7 linked regions of the Homo sapiens genome follow. The protein of the gene in region 5 purifies or fractionates together with the protein of the main gene of each other region. This does not show direct contact. Each region holds a gene or a part of one and is shown on either strand. Other genes may lie near its edges. The genes, in order: FARP1, RBMS2, AMY1A, CKAP5, AKAP1, NAA25 and LARP4.

The links.
Region 1: the proteins of AKAP1 (region 5) and FARP1 purify together in Homo sapiens (affinity purification with mass spectrometry; one large-scale study listed by BioGRID and IntAct). This does not show direct contact.
Region 2: the proteins of AKAP1 (region 5) and RBMS2 purify together in Homo sapiens (affinity purification with mass spectrometry; one large-scale study listed by BioGRID and IntAct). This does not show direct contact.
Region 3: the proteins of AKAP1 (region 5) and AMY1A purify together in Homo sapiens (affinity purification with western blotting, with the first as the bait; one study listed by BioGRID). This does not show direct contact.
Region 4: the proteins of AKAP1 (region 5) and CKAP5 purify together in Homo sapiens (affinity purification with mass spectrometry; one large-scale study listed by BioGRID and IntAct). This does not show direct contact.
Region 6: the proteins of AKAP1 (region 5) and NAA25 purify together in Homo sapiens (affinity purification with mass spectrometry; one large-scale study listed by BioGRID and IntAct). This does not show direct contact.
Region 7: the proteins of AKAP1 (region 5) and LARP4 purify together in Homo sapiens (affinity purification with mass spectrometry; one large-scale study listed by BioGRID and IntAct). This does not show direct contact.

The regions. Positions count from the first base shown.
Region 1 is NC_000013.11:98,447,094-98,450,593, reverse strand, and holds part of FARP1 (FERM, ARHGEF and pleckstrin domain-containing protein 1), read right to left. Parts: exon of another isoform or gene 2,359-3,500; coding exon 2,277-2,358; 3' UTR 1-2,276. UniProt on the Homo sapiens protein: Functions as a guanine nucleotide exchange factor for RAC1. May play a role in semaphorin signaling.
Region 2 is NC_000012.12:56,587,820-56,591,319, reverse strand, and holds part of RBMS2 (RNA-binding motif, single-stranded-interacting protein 2), read right to left. Parts: intron 3,027-3,500; coding exon 2,946-3,026; intron 2,389-2,945; coding exon 2,308-2,388; coding exon of another isoform or gene 2,302-2,307; intron 2,181-2,301; coding exon of another isoform or gene 2,059-2,180; 3' UTR 2,043-2,058; coding exon of another isoform or gene 1,834-2,042; 3' UTR 1-1,833.
Region 3 is NC_000001.11:103,654,263-103,658,559, reverse strand, and holds the start of AMY1A (alpha-amylase 1A precursor), read right to left. Parts: upstream 2,801-4,297; 5' UTR 2,632-2,800; intron 2,276-2,631; 5' UTR 2,230-2,275; coding exon 2,062-2,229; intron 1,717-2,061; coding exon 1,570-1,716; intron 767-1,569; coding exon 569-766; intron 121-568; coding exon 1-120. UniProt on the Homo sapiens protein: Calcium-binding enzyme that initiates starch digestion in the oral cavity.
Region 4 is NC_000011.10:46,742,548-46,745,280, forward strand, and holds the end of CKAP5 (cytoskeleton-associated protein 5), read right to left. Parts: intron 2,031-2,733; coding exon 1,879-2,030; intron 1,719-1,878; coding exon 1,476-1,718; 3' UTR 501-1,475; downstream 1-500. UniProt on the Homo sapiens protein: Binds to the plus end of microtubules and regulates microtubule dynamics and microtubule organization. Acts as a processive microtubule polymerase. Promotes cytoplasmic microtubule nucleation and elongation. Plays a major role in organizing spindle poles.
Region 5 is NC_000017.11:57,119,045-57,121,844, reverse strand, and holds the end of AKAP1 (A-kinase anchor protein 1, mitochondrial precursor), read right to left. Parts: intron 1,596-2,800; coding exon 1,521-1,595; 3' UTR 501-1,520; downstream 1-500.
Region 6 is NC_000012.12:112,074,284-112,077,783, forward strand, and holds part of NAA25 (N-alpha-acetyltransferase 25, NatB auxiliary subunit), read right to left. Parts: intron 1,507-3,500; coding exon 1,395-1,506; intron 482-1,394; coding exon 392-481; intron 1-391. UniProt on the Homo sapiens protein: Non-catalytic subunit of the NatB complex which catalyzes acetylation of the N-terminal methionine residues of peptides beginning with Met-Asp, Met-Glu, Met-Asn and Met-Gln. May play a role in normal cell-cycle progression.
Region 7 is NC_000012.12:50,477,195-50,480,504, reverse strand, and holds the end of LARP4 (la-related protein 4), read right to left. Parts: 3' UTR 501-3,310; downstream 1-500. UniProt on the Homo sapiens protein: RNA binding protein that binds to the poly-A tract of mRNA molecules. Associates with the 40S ribosomal subunit and with polysomes. Plays a role in the regulation of mRNA translation.

The sequences.
Region 1 (3,500 bases), on a different chromosome or scaffold from region 5:
CGTGGACTGGGTGGCTGGTAGCTCCTGCGTTTTTGAGCTGTGTCCTGGCTGGCTGCTGCCAATGAGGTGGACACCAGTGTGGTTTGGGGTGCACTGGCCACTTCTTGCTGGGTTCTGATTTTCTTGGAAGTGCATCTGCCTTCCTTATCCAATAGTTTTATCCCTGCATTGCTCTTGTGAAGTGGCTGGTTTGGTTCTGTATGTAGCATTTTGTACCTTTCCTCTGGCAAAACACTGTCAGTTTATAAACATTTTTTATATTTCCCTCCTTTAAAAACAGCTTGTGTATTTCTGCTATAAAATGTGTCAGCAAAGGCAGAGTGACCTAATAGGGCATGTTCTTAAGCACAGGGACTGTATCATGCAGGGGCCAATAAAGCTCAAGAAAACGAGTATCTGCATCATTGTGTGTCTCATGTGTAGTGTGTCTCAAACTCCACTCAGATGGACTGTTACCCACACTAGTATTTTCTTGAGGGCACACAGGAAGCAGAGGTGCTGGTCACAGGTCAGAACCACCAGTGTCCAGCAAGTAGTTTGGAATCAATCAATCATTCAGAAATAAATAGCTGAGGAGACTGCCTTGTCCCCAAGTCTCCAGGAATGAGTGAGTGGTGACTTCTGGAGGGAGCCTGATGCTGCTGTGTGGCCCGGAGCTGTTTGTTTGCTCTGCCCCTGCCTGGAGGTGGGGGGAGCATAGGGAACAGTGGGGGGCAGGCCCTCCCTGTGTCACTCTGAACACTGGGGCTTTAGAAACCCTTGCTGGAGTGTCCCCTTCCCCCCTCCCCCCCCACACAGAAAATGAAGACTACAGACAAAGTTGGTTGTTTTGCCTTAAAACATCAATATGCTGGATTGTGGCGTGAGGTATTTTTATTCCCTTTGTTAGTACTGGAAACCGTCTGGTACATCTTGTAAGGCAAATGATTAACACACGGCAGGCTCTTCGTCCGTTTGCAAGTTGCTGTTTGTTTCCAGCTACACCAGTCAGAGCTCCACAGAGAGGGTGCGTTCCTGGTTCTCAGGTGGGCAGGTGCTATGGTGCGGGGCGCTGGAAAGAATGGGGTTGAATTGGCCCTCGCCTCCGCTTGTTTGAGACTCTCGTTAGAAAGGGCTTAGGAAAACCAAGGGAATGGCAGCCACCCCATCACCATCGAGAACAGGCAGACGTTTCCCGAGTAGGGGCCAAAGCCACTGGAAACCGTGTTCCCTGTGCAGTCCGACTGACACTACCCCATGCCTGGGGGGAATGAGTATAAAAAGGGAAATGTTTTTGAAGACAGGCACGATATATACTACTAGAGAATGCGCAGTTTCAAACCACAGTTGCAGGAGGATATAGGAATAACGACAGGTGCCGGGGACTACGTACCATGATTTCATAGTGCTCTGCAGCCAGCAGGCTCACTAAACGCTCATCACGGAACATACCACAAATGGTGCTGATCAATGACACACGGGTTTTCATGCTTGTGACACAGACAGACAGCAAAACACCACGGCTTATTATCTTCCCATTGTGTACACCACTCACAGGACGGTGACAGTCCAGGTATTGCACTGGATCTCGGCTTTGCTTAACAGAAAACAACCCTGCTACGGTTGGAAAGAGTTACCACTTAAAACGATTTGGTCAACTTGCACCAAGAAGTAGGTTGGGAACAGGTGTTTTCAGGTGAGCGTGAAACCCCGCAGTGGAACGCTGTGTGCTGCAAATTGCTTATTAATCAGAGAAGTGAGTCCTACTAACTTCCTATTATTACAAAAGTAGAAAGACTGAAAAAAAAAATGAAATCTGAAAATGATCTCATTTGCTTAAGGCTGCACTGAGTGTATTGCAAACAAACAAACAAACACCGGGAAGTCCACTTCGTAAAATGCAGCAGCCAATAGGTGAAAATAATAAAAGAAAGAACTTTTTTTAGGAAGAAAAACACTTGCCCTGTCTTGTGTTGAACGGATGTGTGTGTACTGTTTTTCAGGGGCAGGGTGGAGGGAAGATGTCATTTGGCACTCTCGTAATGACAATGTTTTAATACTGGCACTAGCTAAAGAACAGCGCCCCCAGCGGATGCCAGGACTGGAGGTGGGAGCGCTGTTCATTCAGACGCTGAGAGGTCGGGGTTAAAAAACGCGGCTGTGGAGACAGGAGAGCTGCTGGGAAGCCATGTTTTTGATTTTCAGACAGGTGTTAATTTTACCAGGCTTCATTAATACAGAAGAAAGGAAACGTCTTCCAGGAAAGCAGCCACTGCGGAAACGAGTGTGTCCGGCCATCAATACACAAGAGACTCTTTGTGACTCAACACGTGGGGTCGCGAGGCAGAGCTGGTGGCACTGCGGATCACTTCCATCCACCTGCAACACGGGAACGCCAGTTAGTCAACCTTTTGTTTGGACGGACTCCTGACACTTTGGTGGGCATCGCTTACAGAAACACAAGGTGAAGTCAGGCCGCCTGGTTGGTAATCTGCCACTTCAGCAGAAGAGCAAGGGAACAGCCAGCACCCAGGCGTTCCTGAGGTACAGTGGAGACCCACTGGCCTGGGCACTCACTCAGTGTGGAGCTGGAAGTACCTTGCTGCAGTGACACTGCCCGCTCCATTGGAGCAGTTAGGAGCGAGGTGGCCTCTGGTTGCTGGGGAGAACGCTACCTCCTATTTTCATGGACATGGCAGAGAATGGCGGGACGTGTCCCATCCTGCTTAGTGGAAGCTCTCCCTTCCTTTTTTCTTTTTCTTTTTTTTTTGAGACAGGGTCTGGCTCTGTCACTCATACTGGAGTTCAGTGGTGCAGTTATCGCCCACTGTAGCTACCTCCTGGGCTCAATCGATCCTCCAGCCTTGGCCTCCCAGGAGATGGGACTACAGGCTTGCACCACCACGCCCAAATCTCCCTTTTTATATATTTGTGTATTTGCTCTCTACCGGTGCTTCTCAAATGGGTGCAATGCTGTCCCATTTGGTAAAGTCTGGAGACATTTTTAGATGTCCCAACTGAGGGGTTGCTGCGGGCATCTAGTGGGTGGCCAGGGATGCCGCTGAACATCCTGCACAATGCAGGACGGACTCCCCAAATTACCTGGCCTTGTCCCAGGCCTTTCAGGATCTGGACTGCAAGGCTGGACCCTTTGTCACAATAATAGCAAAATCCCAACTTTGATCAACCCAGCTCTCAACCCAGCTCTCGAGCTCAGTCCAGGATCAGATTTGAGAATGGCTCTCCTCTAGGTTCCTTTTTCAGGTGATGTTGTTTAGGAGGTGCTCAGCATATTGCTGAGGACCCCTCCCCTTCTGCCTCCCGGGGCGAGGAGGGCTCAGCAGGGCAAACTGCACAAGTAGTCGGCTTGGGGATGCAATTTGCAGAGGCCCAGGATCTCTATTCAAAATATGAATTGCAGGAACAGTCTTAGGCCTGACTGTTGCATTTCTTTCTTGGCTAAATGAAGTCTGCAGTCCCTGCCATTACACCATGTAGGCAGTCTCACTGGGGCTTAGCTT
Region 2 (3,500 bases), on a different chromosome or scaffold from region 5:
TGGGAAGGGAGGGAAAGCTGGGCCGAGCTCTACTTGTGACAACTGATACTACAGTTTCTTTTCCCCTGCTGTCACCCCCTTCCTCTCCCTATGGCCAGCCTAATGAACACCTGTCTCTCTATCCTCCATTATTTGCCTTTGTCTGACTGTCTAGTGGAGAGGCACCTGGCCTTGAAGTGCAAGGGAGTCAAATTCTCCTTTCAGTGCATAAGGGAGTGACTGGGAGAAGACAAGAGCAGGATTTTATTTCCTAGAAGATGGGTGAAGTCTTTCTTCAATCTGTCTCCATGTGTATAGAGTCACATCTTGCAGAAGGGGACAGTTAAAGACCAAGACATAGGCTTTTTTAAAGGACTCCTGACCTCATAAAGAGTTGGAATTTATTGCTCTTTGCTACCCTAGCTCCCCGTTGTCCTTCCACAGAAGGAACATTATTTCTGATGTCCTGGTTCCCTGGGCAAAGGGTCCAAGCACACCGGGGCAGGGCAGGTTGCTCTGGACAGTTTAGAGAGCTTTGTCCTTTCCCACCATTGCACAGCACACACCAGAACAATGCCCACCTGAATCCCTCTGAGTACATGTGTGCATTCAGCATGGAGCCACAGCTCTTTCAAGAATCACTCTTGCTATATGCAGAGTTATCAAAAGTCAAAGTCTGGGGAGAATTCAAGGATCCCAGTCCAGTCCTTCCCCAACAGTTGCATGAGTGTCAAAAGGCACTGTTTGTCCAGGGTTGGGGTGAAAATTTACCCTAACCCAGGAGGCAGGGACAACACTGTCTATATCAGTGTTTCCCAGTCTTGGCAATATTGACCCCTGGAGTCAGATAATTCTTGGCTGGGGGTAGTGGGGACTATCCTATGCAGTGTAGGATGTTTAGCAGCCACTAGATGCCAGTAGCACACACATCCCACCTCCAGGCGTGGCAATCAAAACTGTCTCTAGATGTTGCCAAAGGCCTGAGGGACAAAACCACCTCTGATTGAGAACTCCTGGTCTGTGAGTGAAGCAGCAGATCTTCCACCGTGTGGAAGGAGCCTATGTGGATTCAACTAGGTCGCAGCTGCAAAGGCTCTGAGCACAGCAATGTGTAACAGGGAAGAGAGGGGCCATGAAGCCCAGGACAGAAAATATCCTCCAGGAGGCAAGAAAGCAGGTACTCCCAAAAAGCTATACCTCAGATGCTGTTGGCCTTGGCAGTGAGAAGAGTTGATAAAAGTCAGTAAGTCCATTCTTCCGGAACTTGCCAGGGAAGACCTAGTCTTCAACCAAGTTTGGCTCAAGGGTGTGTTCCCAGGGCTGTGGAGTTGTCTCTTTAGTAAGCCTGGGTCACATCTGTGCTTTCTGAAGCCAAAGTCTAGTTTTTTCTCCCAGGGTGTGGCAGGGTGGGGGAAAGAACAGCCACTTCCATGGCCTACTTAGTGTTCTGCCTTGTTCCTTGCCCAGCCTGCCCCCCAACCCCAAATTCCACATGAAATTTCATTTTTAAAAATCCATAAAATTAAAAGCTGTAAAAGGGCAAAGTAGGCAGGCTCAGCTGTTTAGAAAAGAGAAAAAGAAGAATCTGGACAAGAGAAAGAAGGCATAATATGGGTGAAGAGGAGATGGGGTGCATGAGCTGAGAGCTTTACAAAATAACATTTTTAGAGCCTGCATACTTTTTAAAACACATACACACATGCATCAAAAAAGTCCATAACTAAGCTCAGTAAGTAGGGCTCCTTCATCGATGTTCCAGCACCACACCTTTCTGTTCTGTTTTGGTTTGTAAAGAAATAATTACAAATTGTTTTAAAAGCATTCCCAAATAATTCCAATACATCGAAAACTTTTTCATATAGATGAGAAGCTGCGACCACCATGTCTCTTCAAGGTAGGGGAAAAGTACGTTGCAGTTAAAAACAAAAAGCTTTCTTTGCAAAAGAAGAAAAGTTTTTTTGATCTCCTTGAATGTAGCACACAAAAAAAGTGATGGTTCCCCCAGGCTCCATCAGCAATAGTAAAGGGCAGGAACGTAGAGATTTCTTTTTCCAGGCCCAGGCCTGTGAAAAACGATGGCTAAGTGTTAGTCCTTAGCAGGGCCGACGGATGGTCTCCATTCCTGGTTAACCCTCTGGAATCTGGGAGCATGAGTATCTCCAAGAATTCATTTCTATTCAGTAAAGATGGGGAGGGGAATCCTAAAGAAGGCACAAGCCAGAGAGGAGACAAGACAAACATGAGAACCTGTCTGACTTCAGGCCGGGCTGAGCTGCTGTCTGCCAGTGCAGCCCTCCCTGCCCCCCAGCATGTGGTTCTTACCCACTGTTACTTGTTGAACTGGAAAGAATAGACCCCATGCTCTGAGGGTGCGTCCACTGCCACTTGGTTCTGTTGGCCGCTGCTCTCCTGTGCCATAGCCAAGGAGGGGGGTCATCTTGCGCATTCCTTTCCTCACCTCCACTACAGCAGCCTGACCAAAGCCCACCCTACATCGAGTGCCCTCCCAAACCTACCCACTCTCCACACTCATGTGTGAGTGTTTCCACCCACACCACCACTTCCCCAACCTTCCTACAGCCTGTCCTCTTCCCAAGACGCATTAGTCAATACAAGCCAGCATCCTGGTGTCAACTACTGGCTGGCCAAATGTAAGGAAGGGCCTCATTCATGAACTCAGACCAAGTCCTTCTTTCCTACATCTGCTGTTGTTTTTTTTTTAAATATGGAACGCTTCACAAATTTGCATGTCATCCTTGCACAGGGGCCATAATCTTCTCTGTATTGTTCCAATTTTAGTATGCATGCTGCCGAAGCGAGCACATCCTTCCTACGTTCTTCGTATACCTACCAGCTATTTGTGAACACAGAATCAGCATCATTGTGAGAGAAAGATCTTGATCAGGGGGAAACCTGCCTCCGTTCATTTTCCTAATCTCAATCCAAAGAAATGATAACACCCTTACCTCGACTGAAACACTGGAAGAAGGCACAGGGGTGTACTGGGAGATGTAAGCTCCTTGCATAGCTGCAGCCGTCGGCATATACTAGAAAGAGAAACATCAACAGGCTTACAGCAGTGATTTTTGGCTACATTTGAAGCAGCTGAGGGGCTTTAAAAAAAATACTGACACCTGTATTCTACCCCAGAGATTCTATTTTAATTGGTCTGAGCATTTGCATCTTAAAAGCACTTCAGGTGGTTCTAAAGTACACTGTTAGGGAGACGTCTCCCTATATGACTTATTTTCCTCCTCTTTCCTGACTTTCTTCTGCTTTTCCTCAACACACTCCCTTCTCTACCCTTGAGCCCTTTCTATGCAAAAAGGAATGCAGTAGGCCTAAAAGAAACCTAATGAGCTTCCTCCATCCTTCCAGGTACTATTTTGATGAGGATTCCTAGGACGTGTGTGTATCTTAAACTAATATGCAGACAGAAGCACTATTCACAAGGTGCATGAGTAGGAATCAGTTAAAAGGGGTGGGCTGGGGAGCAGAATGGCTGTATTCCTGGCTCATGG
Region 3 (4,297 bases), on a different chromosome or scaffold from region 5:
AATTCTGAACCCTGCAACACCAATGTCAATGAGATGGTTCATATATTCGGCAATCTTAGAACGCACATAATCCTTCCCCAGTGCAAGATCGAGAAGACCAGACAGACGACAATCTCTGACCTGTTGAGGTAAGAATGTTATGATTGATTAATAAAACCTCACTTTTCGCCTGAGAATCCATTTGATTATTCATTTATTCCATGATTCCTCAAGAGATATTCTATGGTGACTTCCTTGCATTGGACACTGGGGATGCTCACATTCTACTATAGATGTATCTTGGAAATATTTTCTAATAGAAAATAGAGAACTTAGGAAATAAAGTCGATGAGTTTTTCAATTGGTTGGGAGCTTTTTAAAAGTGGACAAATGTGTATTGATTAAAAATCTTAAATCAATATTTAAAGGTTTTCAAATATGGATTTGAGTTTCTTAAAGTAGTCAAACTTGTTAACCTCTGTCCCTAAGAGATCTAAATTCATATTTACAACGAAGTTCAATTAGCTACATGTCTACAACAAAAGGCATATATCACTCCTTATTCAGATCACTCTCGTAAAAAAATTACCTGAGTAGCATCATTATAGTTCTCGATATCTCCACTTCCAGTTTTACATTTACCATCATTAAAATCCCATCCAGAATATGGGACTGCTGGAAAGTCCCTACTTCCAGGGTTGAAGTAACTTCCACAGGTACTGCTTGTTCCTGCACTCACAGCATTACCACACATATGATTAATTACAGCATCCACATAAATACGAACCTAGAAAACAAAGTTTCTAATTCAGTGTGACTTACAGAGAGGCAGAAATTTAAAGAATTATTGATTAAATTTATAGTGTGCTAATAAAATTCCAAAATATTTCATACCTTATAACTATTTTCCTACAAGATCAAAAATCAACTGTGAAAGGAAAGTAATGTGAACTAAACACCTACATTCATTCCAGACACTTGGCCAAATATATATAGGAATGATAAACTGAGAGAACCGGAAACTACCATAAATAGGAGGAAAGGCAAAAAGCCCATTTTGGGGAGACACAACTCAGATGAGACTGAAAAGGTTACTATTTGGGAAATTTCAGTGGGTCACCAGGAGAAAGCCTGTACTCTCTACTAAGCTTGGAAGACAAATAAGGTAGCTATTCATCTCAAATTCTGCTCCTCATTAAATAGATAAGCTACCTATTCACCACAAAAAAAACCCAAGAATTAGGAATGGAGACACAAGTCATCTAAAAATGAGAGCAAATATTGTAACTGGAATTAAAATTCCTCACCAGAAAATCCTTCCAGGAAATATGGATAGTTATAGCGGTTAAAATTTGATGTTTTGCTTCAGAAGTAAACTCTGCTATAAACTTTAACTTATCTCTTTAGTAGAGAGCACATATACAAATATTTTCAAAAATTGAACATAAGGTGACAGTTACTTTTGAGTTTTAAAGTATGAAGTAAAATTAAAACTGATATGGAAAACTTTCTGCTCAAAAGGAGCAAGAAAGAAGAGACAGAAATCATTTTCCTATCTGTTATTTTTAAAGGAAACTAGAATTCACTTACCCCAACATTGTTGCATCTAGTCACCATGTTTCTAAATTCATCTTCATTTCCAGATCTTGTGCATAATTTATAGCTAACTGGTTGGTATCTTTCCCACCAAGGTCTGAAAGGGTTGTGAATGGCAACATTTTCATTTGGTGGAGAGACCTACAAATTAAACAGTCTTCATAAGTACCAAATTCTGTCTTACTGTATATCATTGAATGTTCTAGAATCTAATCAATAATACAAAAGATTCTTGAATCTTGGTATAGGCAGCTATCTCTTGAAAATATTAACAGCACATCGGAGGGCTCTTGTTGAAGAAAGATTATATCAGAAACAAAATATACAGTTGCAAAGAATACTACATTGTTTTTTCCTCAGAAAATTCTTTTACTTAGAATACTTACCTGTGAAGTAAAATGTTGCCCAAGCTTCACGTAGAAGATCAGAATAGTGTTTACTACAAGCACAGTGAATTCTGCAATTGATACTATGAATCATACCCACCTGAACCCCTCCAAATCCCTTGGGAGCTAAATATCGCTCACATTCAAGAGCAATATCAACCCATCGCCATTCAAACAGATGAACAATAGATGTTCGTCCTTGTTGTGTATTTGAGGAATACTGAGCCCAGCAGAACCCAATGGTGAAAAGCAACCAAAAGAGCTTCATTTTGCTTTGAAGTTGTCAGTGTCCTTTCCAGAAACTATTTATATTCCTGTAAGAAGCACATTTTACAATGTAAATAGTAGCATGAATAAATACTTGAGGGCAAACTGTTTATTCATAATCTGAAAAGGATTATCAATAATAATCCTAACTGGTGAAGAACATCAAAAAGTCTCTCATGGAAATCATCTCAATGACCTCTTAGACATTAATGTTTCTTTTCTTTTCTTTTTTTTTTTTTTTTGCATATGGTAGCACTTTTATTTTTCCTTACACAATGACATGTTGCTGTGGCCTAATGTTCTCACATAACAGCAGAAAACCAAAATTTGTTGTCAACTCTTAAAAGATCGAGAATTGCATACTAAAAAACTTTACATAAATTAAAAGGATGAATACATTTACCGGTATAAATGCGAACCGCTTCCAACTCAAGGCAAGTAACAGCCCACGGTGCTCTGGTAGATAACGTAAGCTAAGAAAGGAAACTGGGTCCTATGGCTTGGACTTTCCAACCCTGACAGACCGACAAGACGGAAACAACTGGTTCAGGAGCCCTTCCCAGCCTCTAGATAAATCTCAGAACACTCAGCCCTGACACATTAATACCCTGCACGGATCAGAGACTGCTGACCACACAGACTCACCAAGCCAGACTTGTCTTCCACAAGCACGTTTTTAGCCATGAAGTGACCAAGCCACGTGTACTAAACACTGACATCAAAGGTATGTACAGATACCAAGGGGAAGAGTTAACTTGAATGCCAGGCCAAAATCAGCAACAAGTTCTACAATCCAGTGCTGATATTGAGAAGAGAGAAAGACCCTGTCCTCTTGTTTTATATTGTTTTCTATTCAGTAAAAACAACAAGGAAGCAAAATCAAAGGCACAAAACCAGGCCTGGGCCTGGTTGGCCTAAACCCAGTAGTTACAAATCAACTTATGATTTAGAAGCCGATGTTATTCATAGATTCCAGACATTGTATAGAAGAACATTGTGAAACTCCCTTCCATATTCTGTTTCTCCCTGACCACGGGTGCATGTAGTCCTTGTCGCATATCCCTGGCTTGTTCAAATCAATCACGACCCTTTCATGTGACATCTTTAGTGTTGTGTGCCCTTAAAAGGGACAGAAATTGTGCACTTGGGGAGCTCGGATTTTGAGACAGTAGCTATCCGATGCTCCCAGGTGAATAACACCCTTCCTTCTACAACTCGGTGTCTGAGAGTTTTGTCTGCCGCTTGTCCTGCTACATTTCTTGGTTCCCTGACCTGGAAGCAAGATAACTGATGGACGGCCGAGGCAGCTCCTTAGGCAGATTAGGCATGCCTTGTGGAGTAAGGCCGGGGCATCCCTCAGGCTGCCAGGGACTCTGGCCAGCCTGAGGGATGGGATCCAAAGAGCGCTCCCAGGTAGGAAATGGCCCCGGTTGAACGCCTCGCCAGAGCAGTGATCCCCGCGGAGGATTAACACAGTGGCTGAACACCAGGAAGGAACTGGCACTTGGAGTCCAGACATCTGAAACTTAGTAAGACAAGTCTTTTCAACTTGCCCCACTCCACCTGAGCGGAAGCTTGGCCTGATCGCTCATGGTGTGCCTGCACCCATATCAATTTCCATATAGAGATTCCTAGTTACAGCTAGTTTTAGATCCTCTACAGTGGTAAAAGGACAGGCAGCAGCAGTAGTAGTAGCAAAGGGACATTTATTTCAGGAAAGTTCTCGCTCCACCGGCCAAGAGAAGCCAGCACCTAAAGTTCTGTTTGACCCAGAGCTCGAGGACTCAAGGCAGGAGATGGCACCAACAGTGCCCTCAACCCCTTATCCAGTGGGGAGGCCCCCTTCTCCTGAGCCCACAGCCCCTAGACCACCCAGAGTAGACAAGAACAAAAGTGAAACTGCGGGAAAATCCACTTCCCTGGCAGCCCGCTTAACGGCCCAAGACGGGAATTCAAATGCCCTGAGAGAGCAGCGATATACTAGGACAGATGAGGTCAGACATACGGTAGAAAGGCATGCTTTTGTGTATCACCCTTTTACCTCTGCTGAACTACTCAACTGGAAAAAT
Region 4 (2,733 bases), on a different chromosome or scaffold from region 5:
AGCTAATTTTTGTATTTTTTTGGTAGAGCCATGTTGCCCATGTTGGTCTTGAACTCCTGGGCTCAAGTGATTCACCCACCTTAGCCTCCCAAAATGCTACGGTTGTATGAGTGAGCCACCAGGCCCAGCCTTTGTAGCCATTCTTTCTAAATATGTCTTTCCACTATAGCAGCAAACGCCTCCATCATCCCTTCAGTGAACAAATACCCACTCCCATGTTCCCACTATAAAGGAGAGACAAGTTTAATTTCAGGAGGCTCCGGGGCCACCTGAAAACGATGACTGGAACCTTTACAGGATTAATCTTCCATCAATCTTTCATTTCTTGGACATCAATTGAATTGAAGGTGGGCTACAATAGGAAAGTTCCTTTGAACTTTATAACTGCCCAAAATCTCCTCCTGAATCCAGAACCTTTTCATCCTGAAGAGTTTTTCTGACTGTGGAGGGAGGTCCTGTGGAATTTATTCCAGAGGTGAATACTCAGCTCACTTTCTCATCCTTACTCTGACTGAATGTGAAGCAACTGTTAGCCTGGACCAAAAGAGACTCATACAACCAAGCAGCAAACCACTAAGATTTCCCAAACTCCATTAGTCAAATGAACACAAATCTAGTTGTAGTGTGAGAACCACTGAAGCCCAGCCAATCTCTGGGCGCAATCTTGTGTGCCTTTGGTCAGCAAAGTGGTAGGATGCCCAAGAGCTTCTTGAAACGACTGGTGATAATTGGAGGGAAATCATGACCAAAATCTCAAAACAAGGAAGGATGAGATTTTTCTGCTCCCTAGGAGCTGTTTGTGGAGAGCAGGGAAGGAGAGTTCCTTCCATTCCAAAGGAATAAAAGACAGCTCCAAGTCTGTGAGCCAAGAAAAAGGGAAGCTCTGTAAGCAGTAATTAACCTTTCTCTAACTGGCTGAATACCCAGCTGGTACCAAAAGTTAAAAAATTGCTGCCCAACACTCCATGATATGGAGCATCTTGGGAGTCAGGTATAGTTAATGCAAACTTTATTTATAAAAGACTCTTAAATTAGTTGTATCATGCCATGCATTCATACAGAATACAGTGACCCTTCAGGGCGACAGAGAAGAGCTCACAAACTGAAAGGAAAACTATTAAAGAGTTTCTAATATTAACTATTAAAAAGCTAGGAAAGATTAGGACAATTTTACAAATGAGCAATTAAAAAGAAAAGAAAAGGATCTGGGAACTAGACTGAGCAGAGAGGGGGCAGCTGTTTACAAGTCTGTACACTAAACTCATCCACGGACAGTCTTCTAGAGCAGCAGGACGCTGACAGAGAGAAGCAGAGTATGTACAAATACTTGTGCCACAATGACTCCTCCCCCTAGCTCCACGGCATGATACATACAACCAGTTTGTATACACTAGGCCTGCTGAGGCCATTTTAAACTATGAGGACTTCTAGTTTAGTAAACTAAAGCTGCAGGGTGCCGGGGGAGTGGGGCAGCTTCATTTGCGACTGCTCTTTATTCTCTCCAGTCTTTTTTTCAAGTCGTCTATGTTAGCTGTGGAGGAGGAGGAGGTCACAGTTCCTGAAGAGTGAGTCTGGTTAGAATCCAGGTCTGAATGCTGGTGCTGCTCCCGTGACTCCCGGAGCTGAGAGAGTTTGCTGTGGAGCATGTCTGTGGAAGAGGCGACAGTAGGAACTGCTGGTTTGGAGAGCAAAGAGGTCAAAGGAGGTCGGTCATCTTGCTATTGAGAGAAGGAGAGAGATTGTCTAAGGTCAGGTCAAGCAGGTCAAGATGCAGCTCCAGAACTACAGCAAGACTAAGCCACTTCTCTGTGGGCCAGCCTGCCTCGGACCTGCTTGTGACTACCCTCCCTGAACTGCACAGAAGAAAAGGAGCAGTACCTTTGTGTTGTCCAGACCACATCGCTGTCGGAGGATCTTTAGCCTTTCCAAGTAGACAGATGGCCCCACTTCTTCCCCATTTGTGTTACCTATGGAGGACACTGTGCTTGTGGGCGTGGGCACACATGTGACTTCCATCTGAGGGGAGATGCCTAGAGGGGAAAAAGTAGAAAGAATATTCAGATATCCACATATCCCCCTTCTAAAGTGCCTTGGTTAATCTCCCACCAAAAAGAACAATTAAGAATTTCCTATACTTGAAAACGACAAATTCCACAAGAATCTACCTGGAGTTGGTGATAAGGGTGCTCTGAAATATACAATATAAGCTTCTTGAGAATGCAAAAAACTGATATAGAAAGGCAGAATGTAAATTGGGTCATCCATCTGCATCCTGGGTTATGCAGGGGATTGTACTCCAGTAATCCCAGGGCTGACTTGGGCAATCCAAAAAGCTGAAGCTACTCCTAAGCATACTGTAATTGCCCAACTGAAAAACCCGAGGACCTTAAATGTTTGGAAGAATTAGATTAAGTTTGGACCAATGTCACATAGGAGAAACTCATTTGAACCTGTGAAGGAAGCAAGGTGTCCAAGGCTATGGTGTATTCATGGGGAAGAGAAGGTGTCCAACAATTATCTAAAGAGGGCATAGAACTGGAGTGTCTGTAACCCTACCACTAAGATCAATATTCTGGCAGGAGAGAGGAAAACCAAAACAACAAAAAATCCATCACACTTCCTAAATTTCTGAGAATGAACAATGATACAATGCGGGCCTTTAAAATATTTCACTTGGTATCAATGCAAATGCATTCCACAGGCCCCAAAGGTAAGGTACTGGGAGGAAACACT
Region 5 (2,800 bases):
AAAAACTAGAGCTCAAGCTCAACAGCCCTGCAGCCAGAGGCCTCAAACGTAGGGGGCAGGGGCGGGGCACTGGGGTAGGCCTGGGCTGCAGTGGCCAGCCTTCTTTAAGAGCAGGGGCTATTAAATTGAGGCAGTATCTCATCCCATAACTTACATGTATTTTTTACATCATTCTTATCACTACAGTAAATTAAATAACTTCACGAATCTATTAAGAATGACAACCAAAGAAGGCACAACCCGTTTTGGAAGCCAGTGCTTTAAACTGAGTCTGGCCAGTTAACATGCAGTGAAGAAGTCGGAGGACGCTTGGCTGCCACCTGGTGGGACAAGGAGAGAGAGGAAAAGGCCAGATAGAAATTTCTGGCCAAATTGTCTTCAAAAAACCATGGGTCTCCTGCAGAGGCAGTTGTGTGGGGCCTGTGATCCAGCTCGCCACACTCACCACCCCCCCCCCGCCAATTCTTCACCACTGGAAAAAAATGGACTCAAAGCTGCAGTTCATACAATTGAAGATTTATGTAAGTTACTTACTTATTTTTAAACTGCACAATGCTGAAGCCAGTCTAAAAAAGAATCAAACACACCACTGCAAGTTAATTCAATGAGTTACTTTTTTTTTTTTTTAAACAGATTTGTACAGCAAAAAGTTCCCAGATCACAGTCTCTACCATACAGTCACCTGTCCAGTGTGCAGGAAGCCACAGGGGCCCTGGCCAGAGGGGCCAAGAGCAGAAGCTGCACTGCAGAGTTTACTTCTACCTACAGGTGACATGTGGCTGGAAGAATCTTGAGTTCCCTTTGTTCTCCAGTGTATCTTGTACAAAATATTACATTTGTTTAAACACATATTTACAGAGTTTGCACAAATAGAAAATGGTTACAAATTACAACCAGGCTTGGCAGGATACCAGTTCCCCTCCCCACTGACCAAGGTCAGATGTGATGACCATTTCATATTTACAGTTGCAATTTAAAAAGTCTGTGTTTAGAGACCTAAATGAAGTTTATAAAAACTGGTTAAATATCATCAACTCATTTATGTAAGCTGTACAAGTAGTGGATACCAATTAGTCAGTTCATGTCTTGCTCCCTGAAGAAAGATTTTGAAGTAAAAGAAACCCTCTCAAGCAAGCAACATACATCCCTGGCCTGTCTGCCAGTTTGTTTGGTTTTTGCCGGGGAAGGAGATAGAAGGAAGAAGAGGGGAATGGAACAGGGGGAATAGGACAATCTGGTTGAAACTGTTTCTATTCCTTTTTTTTTTTTTTTTTAAACAGCTGAGAACCAGCATAAGCCAGCTGGCTTGTTAAACACTATCCTTTGGCTTTGCGAAGAGAACCCATAGTTCCATCCTTTTTTCTCAGAGACGAAATGTCTTCTCAATAGGACTACAGTATGGAGAAAGAAAGGACTTTCTGGAGAGGACAATGTTTGTTATTCCGATGTTCATCTTTGACTTGAGTGCCAAGCCCAATTTCAACAGTGCAAAAAAAGACTCTCAGGAAGCAGCATGGGGGTCAAAGGCTTGTGTAGTAGCTGTCTACCCACTGGGCAAGGCCTCGCTCCACCAGGGACCGGTTTATCAACACCACCTAGAAAAGAAAGTTCCCTTAAAGCTTTTGTCCATGGCATCCTGGGGCCATCTCCCTAGCCAACATGAGTTCTCCCCTCCCCGGTTGCCACTGCAGGCAACAGATGTATGAGAGTAACAGTGTAGGCCAGACGCAGTGGCTCATGCCTGTAATCCTAGCATTTTGGGAGGCTGAGGCAGGTGGATCACCTGAGGTCAGGAGTTCGAGACCAGCCTGGCCAACATGGTGAAACCCCGTCTCTATTAAACATACAAAAATTAGCCAGGTGTGGTGGCAGGCACCTGTAATCCCAGTTACTGAGGCTGAAGCAGAATCGCTTGAACCCCGGAGGCGGAGGTTACAGTGAGCCAAGATCACGCCACTGCACTCCAGCCTGGATAACAAGAGCAAGACTGTCTCAAAAAAAAAAAAAAAAAAAAGAGTAACAGGGTGGGGGACATGGCTTATGCTCTAGCCAACAGGAACATTTATTTAAGTATTCTGTTGGCTGCTGTGGCATAAGGATAGGGTTTTTTTGTTTTTGTTTTTGTTTTTTGAGACAGAGTCTTGCTCTGTCACCCAGGCTGGAGTGCAGTGGCACAATGTTGGTTCACTGCAACCTCCGTCTCCCAGGTTCAAGTGATTCTCCTGCCTCAGCCTCCCAAGCAGCTGGGATCACAGGTGTGCATCACCACACCCAGCAGATTTTTGCATTTTTAGTAGAGATGGGGGTTTCGCCATGTTGGCCAGGCTGGTCTCAAACTCCTGACCTCAAGTGATCTGCCCGTCTCGGCCTCCCAAAGTGCTGGGATTACAGGGGTGAGCCACTGTACCTGGCCAGGATAGGCTTTTTAATATGCTGAAGAAATCTAAGCTTTCATACCATAAGATAGAGGACAGAAAAACTCAACAGACAGAAGGTCCCAGAAAGTCTCGCACAGGGTTTCTCCACCTTGGCGCTATTGACATTTGCGGTTGGATAATTATTTGCTGTGGGGGGCTGTCCTGAATACTATGGGATGTTTAGTGGCATCCTTGGCCTCTACCCACTAGAGGACACTGACATCACCACTGCCAATCAGGACATCCAAAGTGTTCCCTAGGAGGTGCTTGTCTACAGTTATATCCTCTGATTAACTCAAGAGGAAACAAATCCCAGGACCAGCTCCTAATCAATCCATTACTTCGGGCCAGCAACACAGAAGGAAAAGAAGGGCAGAACTTAC
Region 6 (3,500 bases), on a different chromosome or scaffold from region 5:
TGAGCCAAGATCGTGCCATTGCACTCCAGCCTGGGTGACAAGAGCCAAACTCCATCTCAAAAAAAAAAAAAAAAAAAAAAAGGAGAAAAAGAAAAATTATCTTAGCATAAAGATGGAAATAAATCTCACGGAAAGGCACCAAACTATTAACAAGAGTTATTTTTGGAATGGTAGGATAAGTGGAAATTAGCACACCACATATTTTGGCACTAACATGATTTTTAGAATGAACTTGTGTATTTTATACTTTAAAAAATATGAAAAAATGTCTTACTTTGAAAGGAATACTTTATTGAGACAGAAAAAGAGAATTCAATTGGCTTATAATGAAATCCTTTCACTACACTATATTAAAAAGTGCTGTTATAATTCAGGAAAGAAGACAACTTACTGTTCACCTTCAGCAGGAGGACTCCAGGCCTCTTCAATCAGTCGAAAGACAGAATCGAAATAAGTCAGATAGAACTGCCAGTCATCTGAGCTAAAATCAGATTGAATGATGCACACAGGATTAAACCCAAGTTGTGACAGATCTTCCTTAGGAACCATGATATTCAATTTATTTTGTAAGTTATATTTTAGTATGTAGTAGGTTGGCTTACCCCCACCCACTCCATGTTTCCTTTGCAAATCTAAAAGGGCATTTTCAAAGTAATACTACTTTGTATTTGTAAAGAGTAGTAAACTACTCTTTCCTTCAATAAAATGACCAGGTCTAGAAAACTAATATTCATAACAGAAAAGTCCCCACATAAGCACTTCCAAAATAGAGGGAAGGGGAGAGAAGTGTTGTAGCAAAGAATGAAGCCTCTCTCTTTTAGGGGAATACTGAATTTGAGAAATTAATGATTTTCAGTGTTCATTCTTAAGCCCTAACTAGAATTCAGCACCATGGTGGCACAAGTATCTTTTTTTTTTTTTTGAGATGGAGTCTCATTGTTGTCACCCAGGCTGGAGTGCAGTGGCATGATCTCAGCTCACTGCAACCTCTGCCTCCCAGGTTCAAGCGATTCTTGTGCCTCAGCTTCCCGAGGGGCTGGGACTACAGGCACGCACCACCACAACTAGCTAATTTTTGTATTTTCAGTAAAGACAGGGTTTCGCCATGTTGGCCAGGCTGGTCTCAAACTCCTGACCTCAAGTGATCTGCCCACCTTGGCCTCTCAAAGTGCTGGGATCATAGGCATGAGCCACCATGCCCAGCCTACAAGTACCATTATAATACTCTACTGAAAGATGAAGGCTCCTTAAAAACTTTTAGAAACATGCAGGACACAACTACTATAAGAAGACTTTATGCCCAGAAACTTCAAAACACAGACACCAAGAAAATCAATAGTGAGGTCTTAAAGCCTCACTACAGTCAAATGGTACAAAAGAAAGCTTTTACTCACTTTTTTAGTAAGAGGCGCCGGGAAAGGGCATTGCACTCTGGCCACCTGCTCAGCTTCTTGTACATAGCCATGCATTTATTTTCCCGACTCTGAATCTCACTTGTCAACTTCTCTAAAATCAAAAGTTATAAAAGTTGGTAAGCTGGTTTCATTTCTGCTCAATAACCAGAATAGAGTCCAACCACAAGAAGGAAAATGTCACATTTTCTTTTCTTTTTTTTTGAGATGGAGTTTCACTCTTGTCACCCAGGCTGGAGTGCAATGGCACGATCTTGGCTCACTGCAACCTCCACCTCCTGGATTCAAGCGATTCTCCTGTCTCAGCCTCCCAAGTAGCTGGGATTACAGGCATCTGCCACCACGCCTGGCTAATTTTTGTATTTTTAGTAGAGACAGGATTTCACCATGTTGGCCAGGCTGGTCTTAAACTCCTGACCTCAGGTGATCCACCCATCCCAGCCTCCCAGAGTGCTGGGATTACAGCTGTGAGCTACCGGGCCCGGCCTAAATGTCACATTTTCTTATTCACTCTCTTAGAAAATGGGACCACTATTACATACAAACTACTACTATCTTATTAAAGATTATTTTACTTCAAAGAAAAAAGTACATTACTGACAGTAAATTTTTATAATCATTTTCTTTGTAAAAGGATAGGTTTCACAATGTATTGGGTTGAACATCTATTAATAGTACATGGGATATACTTATAAAATCCCAACAGCATCTAGGGACTAGTAAATTTAGTCCATAGACAAGCTGCCCATCCATACAGTTCCAAAACATCAAAGAGGACTGAGCTGACATGAGCTAAGAAAGATGAGATGTTGGAAGAAGACAAAAAAGAGTGGAGAGGAATCAAATCTTTCCAAACAACTGAAAACAAAAAAACTAGGATGATAGTTCTGACCAAATTAGATTTGCCCAACTGTTTAGCAGATTAAGGATACCAAAAATTACATTATGAATTTCCTGTTGAGAATCTAACTTTTTACTATCCATAGAGCTATAATGTAGTTTAAAAAAAAAAAAGGGCCAGGCCTGACAGGTCACACCTGTAGTAATCCCAGCACTTTGGGAGGCTGAAGCAGGCAGATCGCTTGAGACCAGGAGTTCGAGACCAGCCTGGGCAACATATTGAGACCCCACCTCTACAAAAAATATAAAAATTAGCCAGGTTTGATGGCATACGCCTGGAGTCCTAACTATTTAGGAGGCTGTGGTGAGAGGATAACTTAAACCCAGGAGATCAAGGCTGCAGTGAGCTGTGATGATGCCACTGCATTCTAGCCTGGCTAACAGAGCAAGGCCCTGTCTCAAAAACAACAACAACAACAAAAAAAAACAAGAAGTTTCTTGTGAGTAGCCTAAATATCCATCAAAAACTGGTTAAGTAAATTTCTACATTCACACTGTGGAACACTGGACAGTTATTAAAGGAGTGAGGTAGTGAACTTTATCTCTAGGAAATACTATTTAGTTAAAATAATAATAATAATAATAAAATAATGGAGGCCAGGCGTGGTGGCTCACACCTGTAATCCCAGCACTTTGGGAGGCAGAGGCAGGCAGATCACTTGAGGTTAGGAGTTTGAAACCAGCCTGGCCAACATGTTGAAACCCCGTCTCTACTAAAAATACAAAAATTAGCTGGGCGTGGTGGTGTGTGCCTGTAGTCCCAGCTACTCACGAGGCTGAGGCAGGAGAATCACTTGAACCCAGGAGGCAGAGGTTGCAGTGAGCCGAGATCGCACCACTGCACTCTAGCCTGGCCACAGAGTGAGACTCTGTCTCCAAAAAAAAAAAGAAAGAAAGAAATAATGGAGCCCAGTGTGGTGGTGTGTGCCCGTCGTCCTAGCTACTTGGGAGGCTGAGATGGGAGAATCACTTGAGCCCAGGAGTTCAAGTCCAGCCTGGGCAAAACAGTGAGACCTCATCTCTTTAAAATAAATAAATAAATAATAAAAATAAAGTATGGGTATAAGAGTATGCACAGCAGAGGTCACAAACTCAAATGCCTTCATAAGACAGACATACAAATAAAGAAGGAATGTTTGCGGTATCTACAGAGTACAAATCCTGACTAGAGGGGCATTAATTAATTTA
Region 7 (3,310 bases), on a different chromosome or scaffold from region 5:
AGAGTGCAATGGCGCGATCCTGGCTCACTGCCATGTCCACCTTCCAGGTTCAAGCGATTCTCCTGCCTCAGCTTCCCAAGTAGCTGGGATTACAGGTGCCCACCACCATGCCTGGCTAATTTTTGTATTTTTAGTAGAGATGGGGTTTCACCATGTTGGCCAGGGTGGGCTTGAACTCCTGGCCCCAGGTGATCCGCCCGCCTTGGCCTCCCAAAGTGTTGGGATTACAGGCGTGAGCTACCGCGCCCAGCCATTTTTCACCCTTTAATAACTGCTTCTGATACTAAAATAACTAAAAGAATACCCCAGGATCATAAAGCTGTATCTTGTCTCTCTGCCCTTGTTTTAAGTGAAACACCATTACTTCCCACTGCCCTCATCATCCAAAAAACAACTTAGACAATAATAATAATAGAATTAGCGAGGGCAACATATAATACTGAAAGGTAGACAGAAGTAGTCATTAGACATACACCACCTAGAGAAAAGGAAACCAGTCCTGCTTTTTAATAATTTTATTTTTTTTCTAATTTTGTTAATTTCCCATAGCACCTTGGCGATGTTGAAAACAAATACAAATACAAGGATGTACTCATTTTAACATTTTATGCATGAGCATGTGTCACACCAATTTTGGGGGTAACAGTTTTGACAACAGGAACAAATCTAAGCAATCGACAAAACAGAAGCCGGATAACTGGCTCTGACCCCCACCCCCAACATTTAAGAGATGCAAAGGACACCTGAATTAGGTTAAAAAAATCAAGTTGATATGGATATTTCAACAGTGTTCTGTGCTGCAAAACTGAAAATAAAACCATTTAATACACAGCCCATTAATATCTGAGTTACGCTTTTAGGAACTGTCAACTCGAAGATTCATAAAAAGTTGTCAGCTTTTAAAAATAAACTTTAAGTTATCTAATAATCAGGTGAATTTCAAAGGAGGATTTACTCACAACTTGAAAATAAATTCTCTTTCAACTTCTTAAAATATCCTCATTCAGCTAATGAAAAGGGAAACATATATGTATCTTTTCGGAAGCTCAGACTAGCATATGCCCAAAAGCCTAAAGTTAAATTAATGGCCACCAAAATTGTAAGGAAATATAAAAAATTAGGAAAAAATCCATCATATATTATAGTTAATAATTTATAAAAGCCCCTCAGAAGGAATACACTGTTCTCTTTTGAGTTTTATCTTTTCTGTAAAAACAAAATTGGTACTTTTAAAATATGGTTAATATATATATTGCCAGCCTAAATACCAGAGACTTAACCCCAGTGTTGTTCAACTGTGTCAAAGTAAAACCAGTGGACATTTAAGCCAAGAGACTAATTATTAAGGCCATAACTAAGAAAACTAGAGAAGTGTTCATTAACTTTTAAATACTATTTTACGTTCCAGCAACATTCTTTTTGTTCTTCTTTACCCTAGTGAAGATGCTAACATTCCATCATTAAGCCTTTCCAAAGCAAACCTGTTTATTTAAAAAAGAAAAAGGAATGTGAAATAATATTCAAGCTATCTTAATTTTAGGAAACAAAAATAAATCAGAATTCTGCACAGCATCTGATCATCTGCAAATTCAGCACATAAGACAACTACAACAAACCTTTATCATTGAAAGCTCTTATATTCCTCAAAACCCAGCTGAAAAAAATTTAGATGGATCACTATTTTAAATGTCAGTGTATTTGGCAAAATTAAAATTACTCAGAGACAGGCCCTAGGTATTATGAAAACCTTAATTATCAGGATAGCAAATGGAGACAGGTTTTGCAATGTCTCTATGTACCTTCTCTATGAAGTGCAAAGTGGTGAACTTGTGTGACTCTTGTTCTCTTCATGCAGTAAGAACTATGGCAGAGTATCACTATACCCAACATTCAATATCATTTATACCTACTTTTAGCCTCCAACAGATCAAGGAAATGTCAAGTCATAAAGGTGAAGAGAAAAATTTGATTTTTTAAATTCCTCCATCTAAAGAACCAAATAAATAAACTACAATGAACATCCACCCTCATTAGTTACAAAGTAACGTTGGAAAAAAGCCAAGAGCTTCACACAACTCATAGGCATTATTTAGATACAAACTTTAAATCTGCTGTAATAAAATAAATGCTAAATACATACTGTGAATATATATAAATATTACACACACATACACACACACACACTCTCTCACTCTTCCCTATACATGCCATCAAATGGGAACTATTAGATGTAATGAGGCAAATTAAATTAAAAACATTGTCTTAATGAGAAAATTTTTAAAGGTTATATCTACAAATTAAATTTCTACTTTAAATAACATTTGAAGTAAAAGCAAAAATATACTTGCTTTCTTCTAAAAGAAGGCTCTTTTCTTGTATTTCAATTACAACCTTTAAATTTTTAGAGCTGGACTAACAGTAAGTCACACAAGCATACAAGTAATACAGACCTACATTTGTGACACATTGTTTAAAAAAAGTAATGTTTCATTTTAAGTGCAGTAATTAAGTTTATAATCCTTACCAAGTGATTTTTACAAAATGTTTATTCTCTGAAATCCAACGCATTCAAAGGATGTTAACACTTAAAACGTTTATCATTTCCACCAACTGCATTATCTTAGTAAACCAAAATAAGCACTTTTATCATAGATGTAGTCAATGATTAATATGTTTTTTTAAAGGACCTAAACTTCCCCCAAATTTCAGCACAGGTAGTTTTATTGTTATGTTTCACCTAGTAGGCAATTTTTAAAAATAGTGTGTAGAAATGAATAGTTTCAAACTGAGTAAATATAGTAGTATACCATGTCATAAAACAATCAAATCAAAAGCAACTGCCAAGCTAATAATAAGTCAAAGAAATAGTAATTCTGGCTTGTACAGATATGTGCAGTGTTTTCAAAGCTCTTAACAGTTAACCACTAACATGTATCTCCAAAGCTTAACTTAGAGTTGGAAGATGAATTTCACAGTAATGTAATTTTAACCACCATTTACATTCACTTTAATATATTACTAAGATGTTTACTCTATGTCACAATGGTGCTTTCCAGTGTTCACAATTTACAGTTTCAATTTGTACATATGTAATTTACTAACATATGGGACAGTTCTTACTATTACAAACTATCCCTTAAAAGAAAAATAAAACCCACCTTACATAGAACTCTGAACATGGTATGACTTAAAACAGATTAACACAACACGGTTTTTAATATTTTAGTCATTTTCTAAATAACAGCATGTAAACTTGTCTATTTAGTATATGAGAGCTACAACTTTATTCACTGAGAAATTATGCACTAAT